Linked DNA regions of Homo sapiens. The protein of the gene in region 1 purifies or fractionates together with the protein of each later gene. This does not show direct contact. Each region holds a gene or a part of one and is shown in the gene's direction. Other genes may lie near its edges.

Region 1 (7,376 bases):
TGTCACTGTGGTTTTGATTTGCATTTCCGTGATGATTAGTGATGTTGAGGGGTGGAAGCGGGTAAGTAGGAAAACTCCCACCACAACTATAGTGCTAGAGTGAAGTAGGGCTGAGACTGGGGTTGGGCCTTCCAAGGCGGAAGGAAGTCAGGGGTGGAGGCCAAGTTGGGCTGATTTTCCTGCTGCTGCTAAGAGAAAACCAATTAATGGAAGAAGGTTGGGGGTAGGGTTAAGGATAAGTATTTGTTGAGGCTCTCATGTATTGGATGATGAGAGGAATCATGCTATAGCTAAAATAAAGCCAATGTCACCAATGCGATTGTATAGAATTGCTTGGAGGGCTGCTGTGTTAGCATCTGCTTGGCCATGTCATCAGCCAATTAGTAGAAAAGATATAATTCCTACACCCTCTCATCTGATAAAGAGTTGGAAAATGTTGTTGGCAGTAACTAGAATTAATATTGTGGTGAGGAAAATAAGTAGGTATTTGAAAAACTGATTAATGTTCAGATCTGCCTTCATATATCATATTGAGAATTCTATAATAGATCAAGTGATAAATAGTGCTACTAGAATAAACATTATGGAGAATTAGTCTAGTTTGAAGCTTAATGAGAGTTTTAGGGTTTGGATTGTTATTCAATATCAGTTTGAGATGATGGTTTCTTGGTCTGTACACATAAATGTTGTGGGAATGAGGCTAATGGTGAAAGTGCATGCGACAGCTATTTTTACATAGTATGGATATGAGTTCTTTTTGTGAGGGTTGATAAAGGTAATAATAATTGGTAAGGTTAAGGAGATTAAGGTTATTATAGTAATGGAAAAATACATGATTATTACTTTTATTTGGAGTTGCACCAATATTTTTGGTTCCTAAGACCAATGGATAACTCTCATCCTCTAAAAGTTGAGAAAACTATGTTGTTAGGCATGGAGGCATGAGTTAGCAGTTCTTGCAAACTTTATCGGTAAATAAGAAGTTGCGGACTTCTATTATTAGACCACAATCTAACATTTTGATTAAACTATATTTACAAGGTATAAGTCCTATAATAATTTTAGGATTTAGAGATAGTAAGAGAATTGGTGAAAGGTGTATGAGTATTAGTATGTTTTCTCGTGTAAAGGAAGGTTTAATGCTGTTAATATAGTATGTTAGTGTTCCTTGTTGTGTTGTGACAAGTATATAGAGGGAATAAAGGGCTGTGATTAATATATTAAGTCCTATAAGCATGATGGTAGTGTTTGATCAGGAGAATGAAGCCGTTGTTACAAGGAGTTCTCCTACTAGATTAATAGTGGGGGGTAGGGCAAGGTTGGTGAGATTTGCTGTAAGTCATCAAAAGGTTACTAGTGGAAGTAATGTTTGACGTCCTCGAGAGAGTAATATGATTCAGCTGTGGATTCACTTGTAGTTTGAATTTGCTAGGCAGAATAGTAGGGACGAAGTAAGTCCATGGGGAATTATGAGGATAATTGCACTGGTAAAACTTCAGGGGGTTTGAATGAGGATAGCCACAGTAACAAGTACCATGTGGCTTACGGAGGAATGTGCAATAAGTGACTTTAGATCAGTTTGTCGTAGACAGATGGAGCTTGTCATAATATGCCTCATAAGGATAATATCAGGAAAGGATAGGCTATATGTTCTGTCAGAGGGCTGAGGATGAGGGTAAGTCGCATTTTGTGTAGCCGCCCAATTTTAGGAGCACTGCTGCAAGTACTATTGAGCCAGCCTTAGGTGCTTATACATGGGCTTTGGGAAGTCATAGGTGAAGTCAGTATAGGGGTATTTTTACTATGAAGGCCATTATACATGCCAATCACATGAGATTGTTGGATCAGGAGATTGGTAGTTCTTGATATTAAATGTTATTATTATCATGCTCAGTGAGCCTAGGATATTTTGGGCATAAATAAGTGTAATAAGTAGGGGGAGGGATCCCACTAGTGTGTAAAATAAGAGATATGTACCTGCATTGAGGCGTTCTGGTTGGTTACCCCATCGGGTGATAATAATTAAGATAGGGATAAGTGTAGCTTCAAAGAGAATATAAAATATAATTAGTTCTGTGGCTGTAAATGCTATGATTAGAAAAATTTGTAGGGAAATTAATATGGAAATACAGGGTTTTTTCCATAGGGGTGATTCACTGGAGAGGTGGTACTGGCTTGCTATAGTTATAAGAGGTAGTAGTCAGGCTGTTAAGATTAGAAGGGGTGATGTTAGCGGATCAGAGGAGAAAGTTAATGAGAAGTTGAATAGATTGTCGTTGAATTAGTTAAAGAATAATAGGGCAATGAAGCTGGTGATTAGGCTGTGGGTAGCCATATTGATTCAAATTGTATAATTTTTAGAGAGTCATGTTATTGGTAGTAGTATAATTGTAGGAATAGTTATTTTTAGCATTGAAGTAAATTTAGGTTATGTATGTAGTCTAAGCCATATATGTTGGAAATTGAAAGTAGCAAAGCAAGGCCTACCCTGGCTTTGCAGGCAGCAAATACTGGTAGAGTAATGGGTATTACATTTGCTAGGGTGAAGTGTATATTTAAAGCTATAAGGGTATTTACTATGAATAATGATAATATTATTCCTTCTAGGCATAGGAGGGATGATATTAGGTGGGACTGATAGACTAATACCCCCAGAAGTGATATGATAAATGCTAATATGATACTTATGTAAATAGAGGGCATTTGGTAAGTATGTTCTATCATAATCTAATGAAATCATTTATTTTGCCTTAAACTACTTATTTTTTTCTTATACCTGTGGACCATTTGTATGTCTTCTTTTGAGAAATGTCTGTTAAAGTCTTTTGCCCATTTTTAAATGGGGTTATTTGTTTTTTTGCTGTTGAGTTATTTAAGTTCCTTATGTATTCTAAATATTAACTCCTTGTGAGATGTATAATTTGCAAATTTTTTTCCTATTTTGTAGGTTGTCTCTTCCCTCGGTTTTTTTTTTTTTTTTTTTTTTTTTGCCGTGCAAAAGGGTTTTAATTTGATGTAAACTCATTTGTCTATTTTTGCTTTTGTTGTCTGTGCTTTTGAAGTCTTGTTTTAAAAATCCTTGCCCAACCCAATGTCATGATATGTTTGCCCTGTTTTCTTGCAGCAGCTTCATAGTTTCAGGTTTTACATTTAAGTCTTACACATTTTGAGTTGGTTTTTGTTTATGGTGAGAGGTAAGTGGTTAGTCTCATTTTTCTGTGTATGGATATTCAATTTTCCCAGCACCGTTTTTTGAAGAGATTCTCTTTTACCTATTGTGTGTTCTGGGCACCTTTGTCAAAAATCAGTTGGCTGTAGGTGTGTGAATTTATTTCTGGGATCTATATTCTGTTCTATTGATCTATGTGTCTGTTTTTATACCACTACCATGCTGTTTTGGTAACTCTAGATTTGTAGTATATTTTGAAGTCAGGTGGTGGGATGCCTCCAGTTTTGTTCTTTTTGCTCAGCATTGCTTTCACTATTTGGGGTCTTTTGTGGTTCCATATACATTTTAGGGTTTTTTTCCCTATTTATGTGAAGAATGTAATTTTTTTGTTTGTTTTTGTTTTGTTTTGTTTTAGAGATGGGGTCTTGTTATGTTGTCCAGGCTAGACTTGAACTCCTGGGCTCAAGCAATCCTCCCACCTCAGACTCCTGAGTAGCTAGGACTACAGGCATTTGCCACTGCACTTGGCTTGTCACTGGTATTTTGATAGGGACTGCATTAAATCTGTAGGTCACCTTGGGTAGTATGGTCATTTTAACAAGATTATTCTTCTAACCCATGAACACGAGATATCTTTCCATTTATTTGTGTCCTCTTCACTTTCTTTCATCAATGTTTTATAGTTTTCAGTGTTTAATATTTAAGTTAATGATATTTTAATTGTTTAATATTTATTTAATAATTTTATTATTCAATTATTATTTAATATTAATTTAAATAATATTTAAATTAATAAGAAAAAATTAGCCAGGTGTGGTGGCATGCACCTGTAGTCCTAGCTATTAGGGAGTCTGAAGTGGGAGGATTGCTTAAGCCCAGAAGTTTGAGGCTGTAGTGAACTACAATCGCATTACCGCATTCTAGCCTGGGCAACAGAGCGAGATCCTGTCTCTAACAAAAAGAGGCAATTTCAGGAAGTGATCCCTGCCATGAACAAATCAAAACAGGATAATGGTAGTTTCTTGGTGGAGGTAATATTTCAGGTGAGACTAAATGATAAGAAGGAAACAGACACAGGAAGATTTGGGAATAGAGAGCAGGTGCAAAGCAAGATGCAGGGATTGAGAGCAGGTAAGGGCCTGCATCCCTTCCCTGAAAAATAGTGATAGTTAAGGATGAGGGGATGAGAGTAGTCATACTAATACTAAAAATGATGGTCAGCAGAACAGTGTAGCCAGTGTTCTAAGTGCTTGACCCAATATACATCCTTTAATGCTCTCGGCAACCCCTAAGATGGGGACTGTTATGGTTCCTATTTTAGAGCTGGGAAAACCGAGGCATGGAGCAGTGAGTAACCAGCCTAAGAGCACACAATGAATGAATGATGGAGCCACAATTTAAAATTGAATGTGTTTTCAGAACCTGTGCTTGCTTCCAGTGATATGTATTGCCTACCCTGAGAACGTTCTGCTAAATGCTATATGTCCTGCAAGCCCAGGCTCAAATGCTACCATCTGCATGAAGCCTTCTCTCTCCCTCCCAACCAGAAATGCATTCTCCTCTGAACTTGCAGTGGAACCTTGACCTTTCATTTGGTGTTGACCACATTCTGCCTTGTGTTATGAATATTGTGTATATGCCATCCTCGGTAAATGTTTCATATCTGCATTCTAAGTGGTTAACTTCAGGAATTGTGTCATGTCTATCTTTGTATCTCTCCCAAGACTACAGATAGAGAGGGCATTGTTGGTATCTGTGGCATCTGCTGCATATTTGTTGATCTAAGACCTGGTACATGGTACCTGGTGTCTTTTCTAAGACCTGGTGTGTGGTTTCTACCTCCTGACTGAAAAAAGTTTCTTCTCTGGGCCAGGCACAGTGGCTCATGCCTGTAATCCCAGCACTTTGGGAGGCCGAGGTGGGTGGATCACCTGAGGTCAGGGGTTCGAGACCAGCCTGGGCAAGCAATATGGTGAAACCCCATCTTTACTAATTAGCCAATTGTGGTGGCAGGCACCTGTAATCCCAGCTACTCGGGAGGCTGAGGCATGAGAATCACTTGAATCCAGGAGGTGGAGGCTGCAGTGAGCTGAGATCACACCACTGCACTCCAGCCTGGGCGACAGAGTGAGACTCCGTAAAAAAAAATTTTGTTTTCTTCTTTGTTGCAGACATGAAGACATCTTATCCATCCTCACTGCTGTCAACGATGATGTGAGTCGAAGAGTGGACAAACAGGGAACAAAGAAACAGATGCCCCAGCCTGCTTTCACACTAAGGAAAAAACTAGTATTCCCTGTGCCCCTGGATGCACTTTCATTATAGCAGAGAGTTTTTGTTGGTTCTTAGACCTCAAACGAATCATTGGCTATAACCTCCAGCCTCCTGCCCAGCACAGGAATCGGTGGTCTCCACCTGTCATTCTAGAAACAGGAAACACCGTGTTTTCTGACACAGTCAATTCTGATTTTCTTTTTCTTTTGCAAGTCTAAATGTTAGAAAACTTTCTTTTTTTTGGAGATAGTCTCATTCTGTCACCCAGACTGGAGTGCAGGGGGGCAATCACGGCTCACTGTAGTCTCGACCTCCCAGGCTCAAGCTGTCCTCCCGCCTCAGCTTCCCAAGTAGCTGGGACCACAGGTGTGTACCACCGTGCCCGGATTTTTTTTATTCTTTATTTTTTGTAGAGATGGAGGGATCTCACTTTGTTGCACAGGCTGGTTTCAAACTCCTAGGCCCAAGTGATCCTCCCACCTCTGTCCCCAAAATACTGGGATTATAGGCACGAGCCACCACACCTGGCCAGAAAACTTTCATTATTGAAGACTTGGATTGTAGCCTTGGTTTTGGATGTCTATTCTGAAGACAGAGTAATTGGCTTTGGTTTGTGCAGGTACTTTTTCTTTGAGACAGAGTCACTCCGTCACCTGGGCTGGAGTGCAGTGGTGGGATCACTGTTCACTGCAGCCTTGACCTCCCAGGTTCAAGCGATCCTCCCACCTCAGCCTCCCAAGTAGCTGAGACTACAGGTGTGTGTCCATGCACAGCTAACTTTTTATTTTTTTTGTGGAGATGGGGTTTCACTATGTTGCCTAAGCTGGTCTCAAACTCCTGGGCTCAAGCGATCCTCCCACCTCAGCTTCTCAAAGTTCTGGGACTACAGGCATGAAATACTGTGCCTGGCCTGGGGACCAGGTGCATTTTAAGGTTCCTTGGTGTTCAAAAACCACGTTCTTAGCCTAGATTGAGCTTAGATTGCCTCTCTAGACAACTACCCCTTAGTTATAATTCTGTGTCCCCTCTGCATGCCCTTAAACATTGGACAGTGAGGTCACAGTCCACCCACCCTCTCTCTGATCTCCCCCTTCCTAAGACTTCTCTTTTGCACATCTAGTGAGGTGAAAATTTGGTCTATGCCAGGCCCATTTCCTGCTTTTGTGTAAGGAAGGTGCTCACATAGGAAGTTTTTATTTGGTTAGAGACAGGTTTCCCTGTAGGAAGATGATGGCTCATTTACACTCAGCTGCTCTGCAAGCAGAAACTTTACAACCTGATGTCATATTCCATTTTGGACTGGGTGCGGTGACTCATGCCTGTAATCCCAGTACTCTGGGAAGCCAAGGCAGGCAGATCACTTGAGGTCAGGAGTTCGAGACCAGCCTGGCCAATACGGCAAAACCTCATCATTACTAAAAACACAAAAATTAGCCAGGTGTGGCGGCGAGCACCTGTAATCCCAGCTACTCGGGAGGCTGAGACAGGAGAATCTCTTGAATCCAGGAGGCAGAGGCTGTGGTGAGCCAAGATGACACAACTGCACTCCAGCTTGGGCAACAGGGCGAGACCTTGTTTAAAAAAAAAATTCAATATTGGGGTTGGAACATTTCAGTTGCCATTGACAGAACACCCAATTCAAATTGACTGAAGCAAAGAAGGGAATTTATTGCCTCTTTCACATTGAAACCCAGGAGTGGATAACACTGGCTTCAGGCAAAGCTTGAATCAGGACTCAATCTACAGGCCAGCACCTTTCTCTTGGCCGGATGTCCTCAGGGCTGGCAGATGCAGTAGACTGCAGTGGACAGTCCCCACCTTGTTACTGCTACTACACTTTGCTCCTCTGGCCCAAGGCATGAGGAGAGAGGCTGTGTCAGAAACTGAAGCTGTTCTCAGGATCACTGGGCTCTTCTTGGCAGAGGGGATGTCT
Region 2 (7,376 bases), on another chromosome or scaffold:
TACACTATTTACTGACTTGTTACAGTCAGTCAGTCTTCCTGCAGTTCCAACTGGCTAGCCTCTTGTGTCTTCTTCATGTGTTTGTATCATTCTTTGTGTGCTTCCTGCTTTGTGGCACTGCAAGATGTCCTGGGCTGACTTTGAACTTTCCCTTCCGCACCCTAGAATCAGCTGTTTTTCAAGGAAGCTGTGGTATTTAGAGACCAAAACCTGGGTGTTGAGTGTGTATATTGTTCTAGGTTCTTTCAGTGAACAGTGTTAGAGACTTGACTTTTCAAAAAGTTTCTGTTAGTATTTTAAAGATTAATGTTATAGCCATGTTTGGTGGCTCATGCCTGTAATCTTAGTGCTTTGTGTGGCTGAGGCAGGAGGATTGCCTGAGGCCAGGAGTTCGAGATCAGCCTGGGCAATATAGTAAGACCCTGTGTCTAAAAAGATAAAAAACCTAGCCGGGTGCAGTGGCTCACACCTGTAGCCCCAGCAGTTTGGGAGGCTAAGGCGGGTGGACTGCTTCAGCCCAGGCATTTGAGACCAGCCTGGGCAACATGGCAAAACCCTGTCTCTATAAAAAATATAAAAATTAGCCTGGCATGGTGATGTGCACGTGTAGTCCCAGCTATTCAGGAGGCTGAGGTAGGAGGATTGCTTGAGTTGGGAAGGTGGAGGTTGCAGTGAGCTGAGATCATGCCACTGCACTCCAGTCTGGGTGACAGAGCAAGACCCTGTCTCAGAGAAAAAAAAAAAACGAGCCGGGTGTGGTGGCATGCCACTGGACTCCAGCCCGGGCAACAGAACGAGATCCCCACTCTAAACAAAGAAACAAAAACATCACAAATACTTTTTTTTGAGATGGAGTCTCACTCTGTCACCCAGGCTGGAGTACAGTGGCGCCATCTCAGCTCACTGCAACCTCTGCCTCCCAGGTTTAAGTGATCCTCCTGCCTCAGCCTCCTGAGTAGCGGGGACTACAGGTACACACCACCATATCCAGCTGATTTTTGTATTTTTAGTAGGGACGCAGTTTCACCATGTTGGCCAGGCTAGTCTCGAACTCCTGACCTCAGGTGACCTGCTTGCCTTGGCCTCCCAAAGTGCTGGGATTATAGGTGTGAGCCACTGCTCCCAGCCAGACTTTTTAATTAATTAATTTATTATTATTATTATTATTATTATTGAGAAAGAGTTTCACTCTTGTTGCCCAGGCTGGAGTGCAATGGCACAATCTCGGCTCACCGCAACCTCCGCCTCCCGGGTTCAAGCGATTCTCCTGCCTCAGCCTCCTGAGTAGCTGGGATTACAGGCATGTGCCACCACGCCCGACTAATTTTGTATTTTTAGTGGAGACAGGGTTTCTCCATGTTGGTCAGGCTGGTCTCGAACTCCCGACTTGAGGTGATCCGCCCGCCTCGGCCTCCCAGAATGCTGGGATTATAGGTGTTAGCCACTGCACCCAGCCCCAGCCAGACTTTTTTATACTAAAAGTCTTTCCTCTTAATAACATTAAGATGTGGGTTTGTTTGATTTATTTTACAACAGTAATTAAATAGCATCAAAATAACAAAGTCAGTACAACTGCTGACTGTATCTAGTGAATGAAACATAGATTTTATTTGTGTTTCTTGTTCTCTGAGCATATCCCATTGAGATTTTACAGTCAGAATGTTCTTCAAGTTACTTGAATAATTGTTTCATCTGAGTATTCCTGTTACCAATTATGTATACAATCCCCTCCCTCCCTTCCTCCCTCCCTCTCTTCCTCCTTCCCTCCCTCCCTCCCTCCCTCCGTCCCTCTCTCCCTTCCTTCCTTCCTTTTCTTCTCCCTTCTCCCTTTGAGGGTCTAGCTCTGTTTCCCAGGCTGGAGTCCAGTGGCGCAAACACTGCTTACTGCAGCCTAGATCTCCTGGGCTCAAGCAGCCCTCCCACCTCAGCCTCCCAAGTAGCTGGGACTACAGGCACGTGCTACCACACCCGGCTAATTTTTTTACATTTTATTTTAATAGAGACGGGTTTTTCCATGTTGCCCGGGTTCCAGGTTGGTCTTGAACTCCTAGGGCGTAGGCTGGGATTACAGACATGAACCACAACATCCGACCAGGTTCATTTTCTTCTGTTTGTGTTTAATTTTTTTTTTTTTTTTTTTTTGAGACAGGGTCTCACACTGTCACCCTGGCTGGAGTGCAGTGGCACAATCTCGGCTCACTGCAGCCTCCAGCTCCTGGGTTCAAGCAATTCTCCTGCCTCAGCTTCCCCAGTAGCTGGGATTACAGGTAGGCGCCACCACGCCCAGCTGATTTTTGTATTTTTAGTAGAGACAGGGTTTCAACCATGTTGGTCAAACTGGTCTCGAACTCCTGATCTCAAGTGATCCACCCACCTCGGCCTTCCAAAAGTGCTGGGATTGTAGGCGGGAGCCACACCGTGTGCGGCCTATTTGTGTTAATTTTATGGTTTATTTCATTTTAACTTTTTAAGTGTGTAAATCAGTTATATGAGTCAAAAGTCAAAACTAAAGTGTGGGGCTGGGCTTGGTGACTCAATGCCCATAATCCCAGCACTTTGGGAGGCCGAGGCGGGTGGATCACTTGAGGTCAGGAGTTTGAGACCAGCCTGGCCAACATGGTGAAACCCATCTCTACTTAAAATACAAAAAATTAGCCGGTTGTCGTGGCAGACACCTGTAATCCCGGTTACTTGGGAACCTGAGGCAGGAGAATTGCTTGAACCCGGGAGGCGGAGATTGCAGTGAGCCAAGATTGTGCCATTGCACTCCAGCCTGAGCAACAAGAGCGAAACTCGGTCTCAAAAAAAAAAGTATGAAAAGTATTTTTAGACATGTCATTTCTACTGCTGGGTGCCCCTCACCCCCAATTCATTCATTTCTAGTCTGTGCTTCTAGTGTTTCATTTTGCAGATATATATAATCTTAATTTCCCTCCTTATGCAAAGTACAGCACACTGTAGACACTTATTTTGTATCTTGCTTTATTTCCTTAAACAGTCTATCCTGGACATCTCCCTATATTCCTGTTTCTTCTTGCCAGATATGTTGTTCTCAGGTTTTCATCATGATAAACAATGCCCTGGTGGCGGTTGTCGTGTGTGTCTCCTGGTGTAAGTGTGCAGGGATTTCTCTAGGGTCACATCACACCTGGAGTGAGCCTGCTGCAGCGTGCTGGGGTGTACTCATTTGCCCTTCTAGATGATGCTAGATGGTACTCTTCATCTTTTAGACAGGGCCACTGAAGAAGGGAGGCAGACTGGCTCACTCAGGGTCTCAGCACCGAGAACACCTTGAGTTCTTTTCCAGGCATACACCTGGGCACTCTAGCTGTCATCCTGGTCCTCAACTTGCCCCATTTTTTTCCCCTCAGGCTCCCCCCCAACCAAGCGGCAGCGGCGGAGTCGGGGCCGGCCCAGTGGTGGTGCCAGACGGCGGCGGAGAGGGGCCCCAGCCGCACCCCAGCAGCAGTCAGAGCCCGCCAGACCTTCCTCTGAAGGCAAAGTGACCTGTGGTAGGTGTCTGTAGGCTTTGGCAATGCATGTAGAGTGCCCCGGGTGGGTTCAGAGGGTGGGAGAAATGAGCATTTTTCTGGGGGATGTGACACACTTGGCAGATGGGTGTCAGCTCTCGTTCACCACAGTGGAATTCTTGTCCTTTCTCTCGCCATCTTGCCTGTCTACATCCTGTCCATTGTTGAAGGATCAGATCTTGTGCCACCTCCTTCAGGAAGCCTTTCCTGACAACCCCCTGCCCTAGTTTCATTTGTGTATTCAGCAAACATCTGCCGGGGTTTACTTATTCAGACATTTCTTGTGCAGTGGCAGCATATCACGGGGTAAAAAAACAACGATCCTGGATCAGGCTGCCTGATTTACATCCTGGTCTTGGCACTTAAATAAGTTGTCTGACCTCAGGCCAGTAATTGAACCTCTCTGCCTCAGTTTCGTTTCTTTTCTTTTCTTTTTTTTTTGAGACGCCATCTCCCTCTGTCTCTCAGGCTGGAGTGCAGTGGTGTGATCTTGGCTTACTGCAACCTCCGCCTCCTGGGTTCAAGCAGTTCTCCTGCCTCAGCCTCCCAAGTAGCTGGGATTACTGGCACCCACTGCCACGCCCAGCTAATTTTTGTATTTTTAGTTAGTAGAGATGGGTTTCACTATGTTGGCCAGGCTGGTCTTGAACTCCTGACCTCAAGTGATCCACCCGCCTCAGCCTTCCAAAGTTCTGGGATTACAGGCGTGAGCCACCGCACCCAGCCATCCACCTCAGTTTCCACATCTGTAAAGTGAGGCTGATAATCACCTCCCTGTTTGGATTGTTGTGAGAAAACAAATTTACCCACAGTATGCCTGGAGCAGTGCCCAACCCGGCACACGCTGTACGAGGGTTTGTTCTCACTGTTGCTGTGCAGTGTGCCTGGGGCAGGAGTGCTGCAGCAAGGTTCCCGGCTCTTGTGGAGCTGACCTAGTCAGGTGACCAGTGAAACTGAAGATCATTTTAGACAATGATAAGTGCCACCAAGAGAGGGTGGGAGCAGGTGGAGGAGCCAGGCTGGGGCCGGAGCAGCTTGGCCTCGCGGGCCACGGCAGGGATGACAGTTTGGATTTTATTCCATGCGCCAGGCACTGGCAGTGGGTTTTGAGCAGGAGGGTGACGTGATGTGATTCCTCTTCAGGGAACTCTAACTCCATCTGGAAAATCAGTTAATAAGCAAGTTAGGGTTTTCAAAGTGTTTAGGATGCACTGGGCTTCTAGTAGGTGCTCTGCTAGGCATGTGTTACGTAGATTAAATTAATCGCTTGAAGAGGCTGTGAGGTCTGTGGAGAAGGACTAGGCAGAGGTCTGGCCTGGGGGTCGTGTTGGAGAGGGTGAGGAGAAGTGACCTAGGAAATAAGGAAGGGCACTGGCCATAGGGCTGACTGTAGACACGATGGGTTGGGTGGGTTGGGGACTCTGCTGTGAGACTACTTTGACCTTGCTCTTGAGAAATTCCACTTGGTCATGTGGGGAGGACACAGCAATGAGCACCGCCTCAACTGTAGTACTCCTTTCTCTAGTTGGGCAAGCTTGGGAAACACAGAAGGGATCAGATATGGTCTTCGAGCTCTCAGGCTGCAGGGAAGACAGATGAGGGAAGTGGCAGCCAGGCTGATGTGACAGGTGGCACGGGTATTGTGAGTGCAGGGGCTCTGGGGTGTGCAGGGAGTCTCCTGGCCAGCCCCAGTTTCCTTGTGGAGGTGCCATGTCTAGAACAAGCTCAAGGAAGCTGGAAGAGGAGCTGGGAAGGGTGATTCTGGCAGAGTGACTCATGCGTACAACGTCCCCAGCCGGATGTGGTCAGGGCTGAGTCTGTCTGGAGCAGAGGCTTTGTGGGTGGGAGCAGGGGGAGATGAGGCAGGTGGGGGGCCTTGGTTTGGATTTTATTCTAGGGGGTGGTGGGTGAGGGAGCCATGGAAGGGTTTGTTAATTCCTTCATCCAGTTTTTATTAGGATCATCTTTATGCCAAGCACTGTTCCAGGCACGGAGGGCTCAGAATTGGACCAGGTGAAGAAAGTCCTCAGCCTCCAGGAGTTTACGTTATAGTGGGCAAGACAGATAACTCGAAAATAAGCCAGCGTAGCAGACGGCATCAGCTAGTGACAAGTGCCCTAATGAAACATGAGGCCAGGGGTGGTGCCGAGCCCCTGCAAAGGGCTGAGGCTGCTGAGGGAGGGGAGGAGGCCCCTGGGGGGAGTGGAAGGGTTCAGGGGAGGAGGCCATTGTGGAAGCTGGAGGTCAGAAGACCAAGTTGGAGCTGGTGAGATGCTGGCATGTCCTGTCTTCTAGGAGACCTTGGCCTGGGGGTGCTTCCTTCTACCATCTGCAGAGCTTTCTCCAGCCCACAAAGCACGCGCACCTGCCCCCTCCTAGTGCCCATAATGGCCCTCCAGGGAGTGGGCATCATGCCTGCTTTGTAGATGAGGCAGCAGATAACCTGTGCTGGGTGCTGTCAGAAGGAACAGACCTAGAGAGCCAGCCCTGGGTCCTCAGGCAGCTATGTGGGCTTGCGCGGCAGGGTTTGAGGGGGTGGTTGCCTGGTGGTGACTCCCCCTCGAATCAGCCAGTAATTCCCAGAGCCACCAGGCTGGCTGGGCAGGTGAGGGAGTCATTGCCTCAAGGAAGATAGGAACAGGCCAAGGGAGGCTTCAGGTCTCTTTCCCGAGGCGAGGAGGTCGTTAACCAGGGCTTGGCTAGGTCTTGATGGGAGATGGGTGAGCAGGTCTGACTGCTGACTCACCAGGCAGGGTGGGGCTGGAGTGAGGCTCTCCCCATCTGGGCTCCTGTTTTTCCCTCTGAAAAATGGAATGGCTTACTTTTTAGAGAGGCCGAATGCCAGAGGTGGAAGGAGGCCTGACTGAAGAAGAGGCCTGCTATTCTTGACTCTTCCTCACCTGTGATACCTGTGACCCCCAGCCAGCTGCCCTCCATTGAGGGATAGAACTAGACAAACTCTCGACTGCCTGAGACAGTGAGGAAGGACACCTTGGTGGTCCTAGGGTTGGACACAGGACATCTGAGCGACCATGTGCCTCTCAGGGTCTGTGGTGGGCACTACTCGGCCCTGAATTCTCAAGACAGCCATTGAGGTGGGATGACATCTTGCAAAGGAAGAGGCACGATCAGGGAAAGGCGGTCACTAGTCTGAGTGGCAGGGGGCAGAGCTTGGCTGAAACTTGGGTTTGTTTATTTGTTTATTCCATATGTATTTATAGGGTATTTACTATATGCTAGGTCAGCCGGGGTGGGAGACCTTGCCCTCATTGAGCTTGTGCTGTGGTGGGAGAAAGCCAAGAGAGAGATTTCAGATGTCAGGGGAAGGGTGTTCCCGATGGAGAGGACAGCGGGAGCACAGGCCCAAGTGGGATGTGCCAGTGCTCAAGGGCAGCGTGGAGGATGGCAAGGAAACTGACAGGAATGGAGGAGTAGGGTGGAGACCCCTAGGAGGTGAGGGCGGGAGAGGGAACCAGGGCAGATCCTGCAGGGCCTGGGCTTTGCATTTTTTTTTTTTTTATTATGGAAAGCAGTTGGAGGATTTGAATGACAGGATCAGCTTTGCTTCTCCCCTGCAATTTTTTTTTTTTTTTTTAAATTATGAGACAGGGTCTCCGTCGCCCAGGCTGGAGCACAGTGGCGCAGTCTCAGCTCACTGCAGCCTCCGCTTCCCAGGTCAAGTGATTCTCCAACCTCAGCCTCCTGAGTAGCTGGAACTACAAGCGTGATCCAGCATGCCTGGCTAATTTCTGTGTGTTTTTTTAGAGGCAGGATCTTGCCCTGTTGCCCAGGCTGGTCTCGAACTCCTGAGCTCAAAGCGATTCACCTGCCTTGGCCTCCCAAAGT
Region 3 (7,376 bases), on another chromosome or scaffold:
GAGGAGCAAAGGACTTTTCTAGTTTTTAGCATTAGCAATACAAGAGTGGGGGAGCAGACATGGCTATATTGGAACCCTATATGCTAAGGTGGAGGCTCTGGAAGTCTGAGGAGGGAAAGAGAAAAGATAGAGTGGCATCTAGACAGGTTAATTAAATGAGTGCTGTAGTTTCCAGACCCTTTTGCTGTTTTAAGTCTGGAAGGGAGGGGGTAACATGGATACTGTATGTAGAAAAACTTTTCCCTGGTGAAACATAGACGTATGAGTGGATGCTGCGCCATTAGATATTTTGTTCTCATTGTGTGCTAGTTAAGGGAAAGGGCCAAATGTAGAATTTGGAGGATAGTGCTGGTCTGCTGTAACCACTTTCCTCCCAGTTTTTTCTAAAGGTGAAAGTTAACGTTAATATTGTAACAAAATAGGAATAAGGAATTGTGGAGGAAGATGAGAAGCTGCCAGAGGGTAATTGGTTTTCCCAGAAGTTCTTAAATTTGGGAGCTGTCTTGCCGCAAGCCATTGAGACTGGAAATTCTTGGAGTTGGTATTGTTTTTGTAAATTGACTAATAGAGAGTTAGGGAAGCCTGGAGACTTGTTGGGGGTGAGTTCTCTAAATGGTTTTAGGCTTGTCTGTGTACTTTTGCAACGAGATTGTCTAATTCTATGGGCCTCTGAGGTTTCAAAGTAAAACTTGAAAATTAATTATTTTCCCCTCCTTATTTGTTTTTGTTTTGCTGCTGGCTGTGAAACTTGTGCTAGGAAGAGACCTGGGAAATTAAGTTTCTTGCGGAGGTAAGTCTGGAACTTTTTTATTGTTTTCAAACAATGGAAGGGAATGGAAATAGCATGGGAGTTATTTTGAGGTTGGGTCCATTAATGAGGAGGAGAATGCCAGGGAAAATGAGTTATCATTCATCCATCTGAGTGCATGAGATCTGTTGTAATCACTGTCTTTAGTTAATTGGAGATAGGAGGTGAAAGAGAAGGAGATTTAGATGTCTTGGGACAATCCCCCAGCTTTGGTTTGTTATTGTCTAGTCTTCTTGGTCAGCTCTGAAACATTTTTTTTTTTTAACATATGGAAGGCTGTATTCTAGTACATTGTCTACTAAATGTTGCCCTTGGAGGGTTGCTGGGACACCTTCCTTCCGTGGGAAACTTTTCCTCTAACTTTCTCTTTCAGCTGTTGGGGGGTTCCTGGCATCCTTCTTTTGAAAACATACTATGTAATTCTGACTTCCAGATATTTGATTACATTTCCTATCCCACCAGCAAGAATGTACTCTTAACCATCTTTAAGATTTTCTATGTAGTTTTAATTTAAGTTTCAAGATACCACTTTTTTTTGTAGTTCTTCTGCATGACTTTTCCTCTGAGGACTTCTGAGAGAGTCAGATATCTCTTAATTCTATGAAATTACAAATATCATCCCTGTTCAGAAAAGATGACTGTCATTTTCATTTCAAGACAGCACTCTTTTTTATTTCTTTCATGTCGCTTTCCCCTAAGGGCTTCTGAGAGAGCCAAGTACCTCAAAAACTACAGATATTCCTGGTTGGGATGAGACCAGACTTTGCTTGGAAGTAGAAACATAGTAGAGAAGGACCAATCAGGAGGAAATCCTGAAGATACCTATAGACTGTTGGCCCTTGGCTGACTTGGACTTCTCTAAAGAAAAAAGCAAAACTCCAGGAAATACAACAATTCCTCAGAATCAATTATTCTTGGGAAACTGTAGGGGAGAATTCATGTGTTACTATCTCAAATACAGCCAGACCAGTCAGTGGGATCAGGACTTTCTGTGTGCTGGAGTTTCGTCTCTTGGTATTTGGCAGTGTTTCAGATACCAAGACTTGAGTTAGTTCTAATTTTCTGTTCAGAGGGTTACATTCTCCTCACCATTCTGATACCTGTCATCTAGAATCTCTGTATGTTTTAAGTTGAGCTCCCTTGCTTCACTGTCACAGAAATACGAGTATATTTTGGTTTTAGAGGAAATTGGTCATGTTTTCTTTTCTAATTTTACTAATCAGCTGAACTTTCATCACTTTTTTTTTTTTTTTTTTTGAGGCAAGGTCTCACTCTGTACCCCAGGCTGGAGTGCAGTGGTGCGATCAGAGTAGCTGGGACCACAGGTATGTCCCACTATGCCCAGCTAATTTTTGTTTATTGTTTGTAGAGATGGAGTTGTGTCATGTTGCTCAGGCTGGTCTCGAACTCCTGGGCTCAAGCAGTCCTCCTGCCTTGGTCTCCCAAAGTGTTGAGATTACAAGTGTGAGCCACCATGCGAGGCCTCATCACATTCTTTTAATGTTAAAGTTAGATAGATTCTTGGAACCCTTATCTGGGTTGCATTAAGTGGAGAGGGCTGCCTCTTAACCTGCATGACAGTATCCTCATATTTCTCCCAAGCACATGGCCTTGAGGAACTTACATATTTCTATGTTTGCTTCATTGAATAAGCAATATAAGTCTGATTAGTGACCTCACAAGGAGAATTTGCTGCTCATCCAGTTCCAAGACTTTAAAGATGACCCTGAGGCTTACGAGCAGGATCCTTTGTGTCTGTCTTGCAGAGGATTACATTTCTAATATCCCCATAGAACTCCAGATTGAACTAGGTCAAAGTAGACCTCCTGGGATGGGGCAGAAGTGGATGTAGAACTACCACCTGTTCCTCAGCTGAATGGCAACAGCAGGTGACAGAGGACCCAAGGTTGGAGTGGCATGAAACACCTTAGTGCAGTTGGACTTGGGAGTTAAATGAACATGTATGTCCGACAGGCTTTTCTTTTCTTCTGGAATGTTGTTTGATGGGTTTGGATGGAGGGACCAGATGGCTTTTTCTAGATCTAGTGTGGAAAGTGACATGCATTCTTTTGACCCTTTACCATGCTCCACCTAGAATAGGGTTTCTCATCCTTGGCATTATTGACATTTTGTGCTGCATGATTCTTTGTTGTGGCAGACTGTTCTGTGCATTACAGGATGTTTCTTTTTTCTTTTGAGACAGGGTTTCACTCTGTCACCTGGGCTGGACTGCAGTGGCGCTATCACATCCCACTGCAGCTTCGACCTCCCAGGCTCAAGCGATTCTTCTACCTTAGCCTCCCAAGTAGCTGGGATCACAGGTGCATGCCACCACGCCAGGCTAATTTTTATATTTTGCATAGAGATGGGGTTTCACCATGTTGTCCAAGCTGATCTCAAACTCCTGGGCTCAAGTGTTCCTCCCACCTTGGCCTCTCAAAGTGCAGGGATTACAGACGGGAGCCACTGCACCTGTCCTATAGGATGTTTCTAAATATCCCTGGCTTCTACTCATTACATGCTGATGGCAGTCCCCTTCCCCACCAGGCATAATAATCAGAAATGTCTCCAGACATTGCCACATATTCCCCAGGGGTCAAATTTGCCCCTGGTTCAGAACCACTGACCTAAAAGCTATTATAATTCCTAGTACATTGATGATCTAGCCTGGGATCTAGGACTTAAAGGTGGCTAGTGTGTTTGTTTCCTCTCAAATGTAGGGAGTTAACTTCAAAGGATTGAAGCTTATAGAATTACATCCATTGATACATAATTAGGACCACAGTGCTTTCCTGTATTTTGCCTTATTTTCCATTGCGAGGGTATGTGGGGACAGTGTTTCTTCATTTCCTGGGGTTTAAGCACACTTTAAATTAGGGAACTGTGGAGCAACCAGCTCTTCTGGTTGGTTTAATGTGAAACCTACCCAATCTGCTTTATCTGAGAGCCTCACAATCAACAGCTGGCCCAAGGGAACAGGTGGGATAGGGAACAAAGAGAAGTTGCAGGGGCTCTGAGGAGGCTCAGTTTTCTCATGTTGCCTGCTATGAGCAATAACTTATTTTCCTTTAGCACCTTCATTTGTACCCAGTAACAGCAACAGGTGAATCGAGAGGAAGAGGCAAGGAATACCAGTCTATAGTTGAATAGCTATTTCCCATGCTTTGGGTGGGGCATCTGGGCTCTCAAAACTATATATGGATTACATTTCCTGTCTACATATCAGAACCCATGGTATAGGGTTAAGTGATCCCAGAGTGTACCTCCCCTTTTCTTAAGGGAATGAGTTTCTCTGTGCTTTCATTTTAGTTTTTCATCTGAGGAAGAAAGGACCAGTTCCTACTTACTCTTCAGCTTTCTCTATCAGCTTTGTTTTTCCAAAGAAGCTTATTATTTTATTGTTTCCTAGTCTAGCCTCAGTTCCTTTTTGTATAAAATGGACAGAGCAACCTGTTTAATTGTTGAGTAGGGTAGAGTGGTGTGGTATGGTGTGGGTAGTTCTGGACATTGCAGAGGAGGCTATGGCTAGTTAGAATATATGCATGGTAACTGAATTACCTGTATCTGTTTTTAATGGGGTCCTCTCTTGGACTTTTGTGAATTTGTTTCTTAATTGGAATTGCTTGAGGTGATCTCTTGGAGATTAAGTTCAGTTCAACAGTGGGTTGCTCCCACTATATTTGAGGCTCTGTCCATTACTAGGCACTAGGGATATAAAGATGAATATATCTCTCCATGAGTTGAGTAGGATCTAATGGGATAATAAATACACAAATAATTTTAGTACATGGTGATAAATGGTGTAAAGGAGATATGCATAGTGTTCCATAAGCGCACAGAAGAGGACTACTTATCTCTGCATGGGGGTGTAGAAAATGCATTTTGAAGATGGCATCTGAGCTGACTCTTAAAGAATGAGTAGGAGTTAGCCATCTGAAAAAGAGTGATGATGGGGGTGTGGAATAGAGAAGGGAGAGGGGCATTCAGGCAAAGAGAAGAGCCTGAAGAAGGTATAGAGAAATTGCATGATGTATGTGAACTATAAACAAACTGATAATGTTAGAGAATAAAAAGCGGATGTGATGGGAAATGAGGTTGGGAAGGTAGGCCTGATCTTAGAAGGCTTGATGTGTGTGTAAAGAATTTGGAGTGTTCGGCCAGGCGTGGTGGCTCACACCTGTAATCTCAGCACTTTCGGAGGCCGAGGCAGGCGGATCACAAGGTCAGGAGTTCGAGACCAGTCTGGCCAATATGGTGAAACCCCGTCTCTACTAAAAATACAAAAAGTAGCTGGGCGTGGTGGTGGGTGCCTGTAGTCCCAGCTACTCGGGAAGCTGAGGCAGGAGAATCGCTTGAACCTGGGAGGCGGAGGTTGCAGTGAGCCAAGATCGCGCCACTGCACTGCAGCCTGGGCGACAGAGTGACTCTGTCTCAAAAAAAAAAAAAAAAAAAAGAGTTTGGAGTGTTCTTATAGATAACGATGGGGCAATCAATGGGTCTGAAGCAGGAAAGTGACTTGGTCAGTTGTGGACTTCAGACAGCTAACTGAACTAGATGTGGCAGTGGATGGATTTAGGTAGGTTAAGATTGGTGTTGCAGAGAACTTTTAAAGTTACAGTAGTCCAGGTGAGAGATTATTGTAATCTGAACCATGGCAGTGGAGGTGGAAAGGTAGGATAGATTTAAGAAATATCTAGAAGTAGCATTAACAGGAATTTAGGATTGATTGTGTGATTGGAGAGTGTGACCAGAGAGTGCACAGTATAGGATGGTACTGTCTGGTGGAGCAGTAAGTATGAGTGACTTGAGTCAAAGTTGTTGAATTTGGGAATTGATTAATGGCTGCGTCATTGGTATTACCTGTAGCCCATAACGATGGAGGAACTTTGTGAATCAAGAGCCAAACTATATAACGAATGTGGAGCTGTGATTGGTCATTGATAGGGGATTGGTAAATGACATCCATGAGGAAAGCTTAGAAGGTGGTATTGCCAAGGCCAGGTACGGTGGCTCACGCCTGTAATCCCAGCACTTTGGGAGGCCGAGGTGGGTGGATCACCTGAGGTCAGGAGTTCAAGACCAGCCTGACCATCATGGTAAAAACCCATCTCTACTAAAAATACAAAAATTAGCAAGACGTGGTGGTGCGTGCCTGTAATCCCAGCTACTTGGGAGGCTGAGGCACGAGAATTGCTTGAACCTGGGAGGCGGAGGTTGCAGTGAGCCGAGATTGCACCACTGCACTCCAGCCTGGGTGACAAAGTGAGACTCCATCTCAAAAAAAAAAAGTTGATATTGCCAAATAGGGTGAAGATCAAGGGAGTACAAATGGCATAGAATTACAAGAATGCTTATTGTAGAAACTTAATGTTTATTTTAAATCCATGAGTTTTGGTAAATATTGATAAACTTTCTGAGCAGTTATCATTTCTTGATGTGGTTGGATTGTAGGAAAAATGTGGAGGGATGATTCTGGGCTGCAAAGGCCAAGGATGCTTGTATCTTTGAAATGTTTCACAACCATTTATATAAGGGTTACCCGTGATTTTCTCATTGGATTCTTAACAACTCTGAGGTGTATATTCATTCATCCCTGTTTATAGATGACAGCACTGAGAATCTGGAGTTAAGTGACTTGCTTACGGTCACACAGCTACACAGCCTTTCAGTGATACAGTCAGAATTTAAACTAGTTCTTTTTTTTCCGAGATGGGGGACTCACTCTGTCACCCAGGCTACAGTGCAGGATTATGGCTCACTGCAGCCTTGAACTCCTGGGCTCAAGTGATCCTCCTGCCTCAGCCTCCTGAGTAGCAGGGACTACAGGCACATGCCACCATGCCTTGCTAATTTTTTTCTTTTTTGTAGAGATGGGGTCTTGCTATGTTGACCAGGCTGATCTTGAACTCCTGGCCTCAAGCCTTCCTCCCACCTCAGCCTCCTGTGCAGCTGGGACTACAGGCGTGTACCACCAAGCCCAGCTAATTTTTTCTTTTTTTGTAGAAACGGGTCTCCCTATGTTGCCCAGGCTGGTCTTAAACGCCTGGGCTCAAGTGATCCTCCTGCCTTGGCCTCCCAAAATGCTGGGATTACAGGTGTGAGCCCCTGTGCCTGGCCAGTGTTTATTTTTAAACAAACACTTCAAAAATTTAATAAACATGTATAAAGCACTATACTGTGCCAGGCATTGTTAGCAACTGGGAATATGGGAATGCATGAGACTAGTTCCTGCCCTTGAGTGTCTCATCGGTTCTTTCCCTGCCCTTTCAGTACGGTGGGGATTGCAGCTGCTGAGCAGGGATTCTGGAAAGCATTGCGTACCTGAGCCCCCAGCATGGCGGGCCTAAAGCGGCGGGCAAGCCAGGTGTGGCCAGAAGAGCATGGTGAGCAGGAACATGGGCTGTACAGCCTGCACCGCATGTTTGACATCGTGGGCACTCATCTGACACACAGAGATGTGCGCGTGCTTTCTTTCCTCTTTGTTGATGTCATTGATGACCACGAGCGTGGACTCATCCGAAATGGACGTGACTTCTTATTGGCACTGGAGCGCCAGGGCCGCTGTGAT
Region 4 (7,376 bases), on another chromosome or scaffold:
AAACACCACCAAAAGACATCATGCTATTCTCAAAAATAAAGGATTTTCCATGTAATATATGGTGGAATCAGACACTGAGATGTCCTACTTCCAGGAGATTGTTAGTCACCGTTGTGGTTAAGCCAAAAAGAGTGGGCATTACTTCTTCCCTTCTACGATCCACCTCTCCATGACCCAGCCCACCCTTTGGAATTGTTTCTGTTGAGGATAAAATGAGCCATTATTGGGCTGTGGGAGTTAGGAAAAAGAAGCTGGAGCCTTGGTAGTATAGTCACTGAGTAATTGGTCCTAAAGCTGGGCCAACTCCTTTCTTCGTATATGGGAAGTAGAGAAGCCACTGGGCCCTGAATATGCAGACTTGAATTCTACTTTTAGCTCTACCATTGACCACTGTGTGACTTTGGGAAAATTCTATCCCTTTTCTGAGCATTAGTTTCCTCATCTTAGATCATCAGGGAATGGGGTTAAGTTGTCCTGAATAATACTTTTAGGATCCCATGACTATATGTTTTCAATTATCTGATAGCTTGAAGTTTTAACTGGTTGCCAAAGAGGAGGAAAAAAAAAACAAATGATGGAATGTGCTGTCTTATGAGTACTGAGGTGCCTGTTACTAAAGGACTTCAAGTAGAGCTGGATGGTATTTCTTTACTGGGCAAAAGGCCACTGGGACTAAGATTAATTTTAAACCTCCCTTTGACTCTAAGATTGTCAGAGTCTAAAAATGGTCTCAAAGAATGTGCATTTACATATGAGGTCATAGGCTTCTTGTTATCAGTCTCACCTTCCCTCCACAACCTCACAAAGTACTATACCTTTCTCCCTTTTCTTGGACATCTAAAGAAAAAATGAAGAAATATTTTGGCAGCAGCATTTCATTTTGTACAGACATGCCTCATTCTATAGTTCTCATTGTATTCTTCCAGTCCTTTGTTAAGGATGTGGACCTGGGTTGGGCTTGTAAATGCCCACTGGTTTGTATCTCTGCTCCTTTAGGATATTTTATTCCCAGGCCTATGAGGATGGGATGGAGTACTTGATTGCCATGGGAAAAAAAAAGAGACTGTTCTTGTTGACATCTTCAGATACAGCTATTCCAGATTGCTTGGTAAATGGGACAGGGTGGAGGGAGTGTGGGGCAAGACCAACAAACTTAATAGAAATCAGAAATTGGAGTACTTGACTGAGTTTTATCCAGTCCCAATCCTGCAAATAAATCATACCATGAATTCAATACCCAACTGGGACAACTCAGCCAAAAGCCTTCTTGGGAAGTCAGCTTATCTCCCCTTCCAGTACTGCTGGTTGAGTAACTAATTTTTTTATTATACCGTAATTTTATGGAATCTTGTGGTGATTGGTACATGACCAGTGACTCACTTTGGCTAGGATAACAGCAGAGCAAAGCAAGAGGTTTCAGGTGTTAGCTGAGTGCCGGTCTGGCTTGGGGCTTGTCTCCAATACCCTTTGTTCCCCAGCTCTGGGTGGGATAGTAACAACAATCATAGCAACTCCTCACATACGTAGCACAATCTGGAGTTTCCACAGCACTCTCACATACATTATCTCATTTTACCCTTGAACATAATCCAGGGTAGTTTCTGTGCTTTTGCTCCCACTTGGGAAGAGTATTTTAGCAGTCAGTAGAAGAACGTTTTCCCTCAAAATCAGCCTAGAGTTTGCTGTTCTTAATTTCATCCTATTTCTTTTATAATGGTATCTTTGTATTCTTGGCTACACAGTCTCTTTTCCCCATTCGTTTAACAATTATTTTTCAGCAGTTGCCAAACACTAACCAAATATTTATATTTTTAATTTACAGTCTGCTAAGTTGTATTTGTCTTTTGAGGTTTGTGCTTTGTTTGTTGTCTTTGTGCACGTACGCATGTTTTGAAGGCAAAACAATTGACTCATATGGTTAGCATTTACTTTTGGCCAAGTGGAAGTAGCCCAGTTCAGTTGGTTATTAATTTTGTCTGTACAATGACAACAGCTTTTAGTAAGGATTTTTTTTTCTTTTTCTTCCCCAGCTGGGGCTTTACCTCTTGCTCTGTGCGCTAGAATAAAAGACAAAGGAGAATAGATGAGACTTCTTTAATTTTGCGCAGGTTCATTCTCCTCTGTTGATATACTATTCCTGACATTGCTGGGCCAGATGTTGCTATCACTAACAGTTAAAATTCTTCAGCCACTTTGGAAATGTTGAAAGTAGCCCATTAAAAACTGTAGTACCCACCTGTGGTCTCTACATTATGTCTATTCCAGGCACAGATTTTAGTATACTTAAACACAAAAAGATAATTTACTTTTATCACATGCCCATGAAATAAAATAAAAATGACACATCCTCAGTCCTGGCCTCCTCCACGTCCCAGTATCAATAGCTGACACATTACTCATCCCTTACTTCTTAAAGCTTTGTCCTATTCTACTCTATCAAGGTTCTTTTTTTTTTTTTTCTTCTCTGGCTTCCCCTTCTTCGTTGCTGTCATGTATTCCTCCTCTTCCAGCTTCAAGTATGAGTGACCCTCAATGTTTGGTTCTTCTTCCTCTTTCTTCTTCCTTCCTTCTTCCTTCTTTCTTCCTTCTTCCCTTCTCCTCCTCCTCACCCTCCTCCTCCTCCTCCTCCTGCTTCTTCTTCTTCTTCTTTGTTTGAGAATCTGTCACCCAGGCTGCAGTACAGTGGCACAATCTCGGCTCACTGCAACCTCTGCCTCCAGGGTTCAAGCGATTCTCCTGCCTCAGCCTCCCGAGTAGCTGGGACTACAGGCATGCACCACCACGCCTGGCTAATTTTTGTACTTTTAGTAGATACAGTTTTTCGCCATGTTGGCCAGACTGGTCTTGAAGTCCTGACCTCAAGTGATCCACCTGCCTCGACCTCCCAAAGTGCTGGGATTACCGGCAGGAGCCACTGCATCCAGCCATTCTTCTTTACCCATGATTTAACTTCTGCCATGATTTACTTCGGCCAGTGGTTATTCCAACCCCAGAGGTTTTTATTTAATTAATCTAGAGCGTAGGATTTTTTTTTCAGTGCTCCATATGATTCTGATGTGCAGCCATAAGCAAGAACTGTTATTCTGGTGTTTTTATGCATTTGACACATCTCCAACTTCAACTTATATTTTACATATTGTATATGCTTGTTGGGCATGACCACTGAAATGTTCCTCTGTCCCCTTCAACTTCTCTATACTGAAAATAATTGAAAAACAGTGCATTTTCTTTTCTTTTACCAAGCTGCGCTCCTTTCACGCTTCTCATGGCACTTAGATTCTTCTGGTTTCCCAGGCAGAAACTCCCAGAATCTCTAACTCTGGTCATTCTGTTTGTCTTCACTTTGTAAGGTTTGTATCTCCCACCATCATTCCTCTCTGTTCCTATTGTAACCACCTTTGACCTGGCCCTTGTCTCCTAAAGCTTGGGCAGTAACCCTATCAAACCATTATTTAAAATGCACTCAGGTTAACATTAATAAAATGCTTTTTTGCCCATCCTGAAATATCACTGAAGAAAAAATTTCAGTGAAGACTGGGAGGACCTCCATTCTCTATTTTAGAGTTCAATACTGCCTTGAAAAGTGTGCCAGACTCATAGCTTCTAAATGACCTTTGGGTTCTGCCTTGCTTTTTGCTAGCCAAATAAAGATAGTTGTATATTTTCCCTCTGAGCCTCAGTATTTTTTAATCTATTAATTAAAAAAAATTCCATAGGTTATTGGGATACAGGTGGTATTTGGTTGCATGGATATGTTATTTAGTGGTGTTTTGTGAGATTTTGGTGCATCCATCACCTGAGCAGTATACACTGCACACTATTTGTAGTATTTTATCCCTCGCCCCCCTTCACTGCCTTCCCTCCAAGTCCCCAAAGTCCATTGTGTCATTCTTATGCCTTTGCATCCTCATAGCTTAGCTCCCACATATCAGTGGGAACATACAGTGTTTGGTTTTCCATTCATGAGTTACTTCACTAAGAATAATAGTCTCGAATCTCATCAATATATATGTGTATATATACATATACACACATGTGTGTGTATATGTATATATACACACAAACGTGTGTTTTTATGTACATACACACATACGTGTATATATGTATGTATACACACATACGTGTATATATGTACGTATATACACACATGTACATGTGTGTGTATATATGTATATATGCATACACATACGTGTGTGTATATATATATACGTGTGTTTGTGTGTGTGTGTGTGTGTGTGTGTGTGTATATATATATATGATTCTTTTTAGTTCTTTAAGGAATATCCACACTGTTTTCCATAGCAGCTGTACTAGTTTACATTTCCACCAGCAGTGTAGAAGTGTTGCCTGTTCACGACATCCACACCAACATCTACTGTTTTTATTTATTTTTGGATTATGGCCATTTTTGCAAGAGTGAGGAGGTATTAAATTGTGGTTTTGATTTGCATTTCCCCAATCATTAGAGATGTTGAGCATTTTTTCATATGTTTGTTGGCCATTTGTATATCTTTTTTGAAAATTGTCTATTTATGTCCTTAGCCCACGTTTTGGTGGGATTGTTTGATTTTTCTACCTGATTTTTTTGAGTTCATTGTGGATTCTGGATATTAGTCCTTTGTCAGATGTATATATTGTGCAGATTTTCTCCCACCCTGTGGTTTGTCTGTTTACTCTGCTGACTGATTCTTTTGCCATGCAAAAGCTCTTTAGTTTAATTAGGTCCCGGCTATTTATCTTTGTTTTTATTGCATTTGCTTTTGGGTTCTTGGTCATGAAATCATTGCCTAAGCCAATGTCTCGAAGGGTTTTTTCAATGTTATCTTCTAGAACTTTTATAGATTCGGGTCTTAGATTTAAGTCCTTAATCTATCTTGAATTGATTTGTGTGTAATGTGAGAGATGACATTCCAGTTTCGTTCTCCTACATGTGGCTTGCTAATTATCCCAGCACCATTTGTTGAAAATGGTGTCCTTTTCCCACTTTATGTTTTTGTTTGCTTTGTCAAAGATCAGTTGGCTGCAAGTATTTGGGGTTATTTCTGGGTTTTTGATTTCGTTCCATTGGTCTATGTGCCTATTTATATACCAGTACCATGCTGTTTTGGTGACTATGGCCTTATAGTATAGTTTGAAATCAGGTAGTGTGATGCCTCCAGATTTGTTCTTTTTGCATAGTCTTGTTTTGGTTATGTGGGCTCTTTTTTGGTTCCACATGAATTTTAGATTTTTTTTTTGTAATTCTGTGAAGAATGATGGTGGTATTTTGATGTGAATTGTGTTGAATTTCTAGATTGCTTTTGGCAGTATGGTCATTTTCACAATATTGTTTCTACCCATCCATGAGCATGGGATGTTTCCATTTGTTTGTATCGTCTATGATTTCTTTCAGCACTGTTGTGTAGTTTTCCTTGTAGAGGTTTTTTGCGTCCATGGTTAGATATATTCCTAAGTATTTAATTATTTTTTGCAACTGTTGTAAAAGGGGTTGAGTTGTTGATTTGATTCTCCACTTTGTCACTGTTGGTGTATAGGAGAGCTACTGAATTCTGTACTTTAGTCTTGTATCTGGAAACTTCGTTGAGTTATTTTATCAGTTCTAGGAGCTTTCTGAGGGAGTCTTTAGGGTTTCCAAGGTAAATGATCATATGGTCAGCAAATAGTGACAGTTTGACTTCCTCTTTACCAGTTTGGATGCCCTTTATTTCTTTCTCTTGCCTGGTTGCTCTGGCGAGGACTTCCAGTACTATGTTGAAGAGGAGTGGTGAGAGTGGGCATGCTTGTCTTATTCCAGTCCTCAGAGGGAATGCTTTTAACTTTTCCCCATTCAGTATTATGTTGGCTATGGGTTTGTCATAGATGGCTTTCATTACATTGAGGTATGTCTGTTGTATGCTGGTTTTGTTGAGAGTTTTAATCATAAAGGGATGCTAGACTTTGTTGAATGCTTTTTCTTCATCTAATGAGATGATCATGTGATTTTTGTTTTAAATTCTGTTTATGGGGTATATCACATTTATTGCCTTGTGTATGTTAAACCATCCCTGCGTCCCTGGTATGAAACCCACTTGATCATGGTGGATTATCTTTTTGATATGTTGTTGAATTCAGTTAGCTAGTATTGTGTTAGGATTTTAGTATCTATGTTCATCAGGGATATTAGTCTGTAGTTTTCTGTTTTGGTTATGTCCTTTCCTGGTTTAGGTATTAGGGTGATGCTGGCTTCATAGAATGAATTAGGGTGGCTTCCCTCTTTCTCTATCTTGTGGAATAGTGCCAAAAGGATTGGTACCAATTGTTCTTTGAATGTCTTCTAGAAATCAGTTGTGAATCCATCTGATCCTGGATTTTTTTTTTTTTTTGGTAATGTTTTAATTACCATTTCAGTATCTCTGCCTGTTATTGGTCTGTTCAGGATATATAATTCTTCCTGATTTAAGCTGGGGGGGTGTATTTTTCCAGGAATTTATCCATCTCTTCTAGGTTTTCTACTTTATGTGTGTAATGATGTTCATAGTAGCCTGAAATGACCTTTTGTATTTCAGTGGTGTCAGTCCTAATGTCTCCCATTTTGTTTCTTAATGAGGTTATTTGGATTTTCTGACTTCTTTTCTTGGTTAATCTTGCTAATGGTCTATCAATTTTATTTGTCTTTTCAAAGAACCAGCTTTTTGTTTTATTTATCTTTCGTGTGTTTTTTTTTGTTGTTGTTTCAATTTCATTTAGTTCTGCTCTGATCTTGGTTATTTCCTTTCTTCTGCTGGGTTTGGGTTTGGTTTGTTCTTGTTTCTCTAGTTCCTTGAGGCACAACCTTAGAATGTCAGTTTGTGCTCTTTTAGTCATTTCCATATAGGTGTTTAAGGCTATGAACTTTCCTCTTAGCACCACCTTTGCTGTGTCCTTTTGATAGGTTGTGTTGTTATTGTCATTCAGTTCTAAGAATTTTTTTAATTTCCATCTTGATTTTGTATTTGACCCAGTGATCATTCAGGAGCAGGTTATATAATTTCCATGTATCTGCATGGTTTTGAAGGTTCCTTTTTGAGTTGATTTCCAGTTTTATTCCATTTTGGTCTGACAGAGTGCTTGATATAATTTCAGTTTTCTTAAATTTATGGAGGCTCATTTTGAGCCCTATCATACGGCCTATCTTGGAGAAAGTTCCATGCACTGTTGAATAGGATGTGTATTCTGCGGTTGTTGGTTGAAATGTTCTGTATATATCTGTTAATTCCATTTATTCCACGGTATAGGTTAGATCTATTGTTTCTTTGTTGACTTTGTCTCTTGATGACCTGTCTAGTGCTGTCAGTAGAGTATTGAACTCCACCACTATTATTGTGTTGCTGTCTATCTCTGCTGTCAGTAGAATATTG

Evidence for each region.
Region 2: the proteins of CASP10 (region 1) and DEDD2 purify together in Homo sapiens (affinity purification with western blotting, with the first as the bait; one study listed by BioGRID). This does not show direct contact.
Region 3: the proteins of CASP10 (region 1) and DEDD purify together in Homo sapiens (affinity purification with western blotting, with the first as the bait; one study listed by BioGRID). This does not show direct contact.
Region 4: the proteins of CASP10 (region 1) and EDA2R purify together in Homo sapiens (co-immunoprecipitation; one study listed by IntAct). This does not show direct contact.

What each region holds. Positions count from the first base shown.
Region 1 is NC_000002.12:201,212,248-201,219,623, forward strand, and holds part of CASP10 (caspase-10 isoform 1 preproprotein), read left to right. Parts: intron 1-5,340; coding exon 5,341-5,494; 3' UTR 5,495-7,376. UniProt on the Homo sapiens protein: Involved in the activation cascade of caspases responsible for apoptosis execution. Recruited to both Fas- and TNFR-1 receptors in a FADD dependent manner. May participate in the granzyme B apoptotic pathways.
Region 2 is NC_000019.10:42,205,836-42,213,211, reverse strand, and holds part of DEDD2 (DNA-binding death effector domain-containing protein 2), read left to right. Parts: intron 1-3,371; coding exon 3,372-3,512; intron 3,513-7,376. UniProt on the Homo sapiens protein: May play a critical role in death receptor-induced apoptosis and may target CASP8 and CASP10 to the nucleus. May regulate degradation of intermediate filaments during apoptosis.
Region 3 is NC_000001.11:161,124,229-161,131,604, reverse strand, and holds part of DEDD (death effector domain-containing protein), read left to right. Parts: intron 1-757; 5' UTR 758-790; intron 791-6,159; exon of another isoform or gene 6,160-7,078; 5' UTR 7,079-7,142; coding exon 7,143-7,376. UniProt on the Homo sapiens protein: A scaffold protein that directs CASP3 to certain substrates and facilitates their ordered degradation during apoptosis. May also play a role in mediating CASP3 cleavage of KRT18. Regulates degradation of intermediate filaments during apoptosis.
Region 4 is NC_000023.11:66,627,692-66,635,067, reverse strand, and holds part of EDA2R (tumor necrosis factor receptor superfamily member 27), read left to right. Parts: intron 1-7,376. UniProt on the Homo sapiens protein: Receptor for EDA isoform A2, but not for EDA isoform A1. Mediates the activation of the NF-kappa-B and JNK pathways. Activation seems to be mediated by binding to TRAF3 and TRAF6.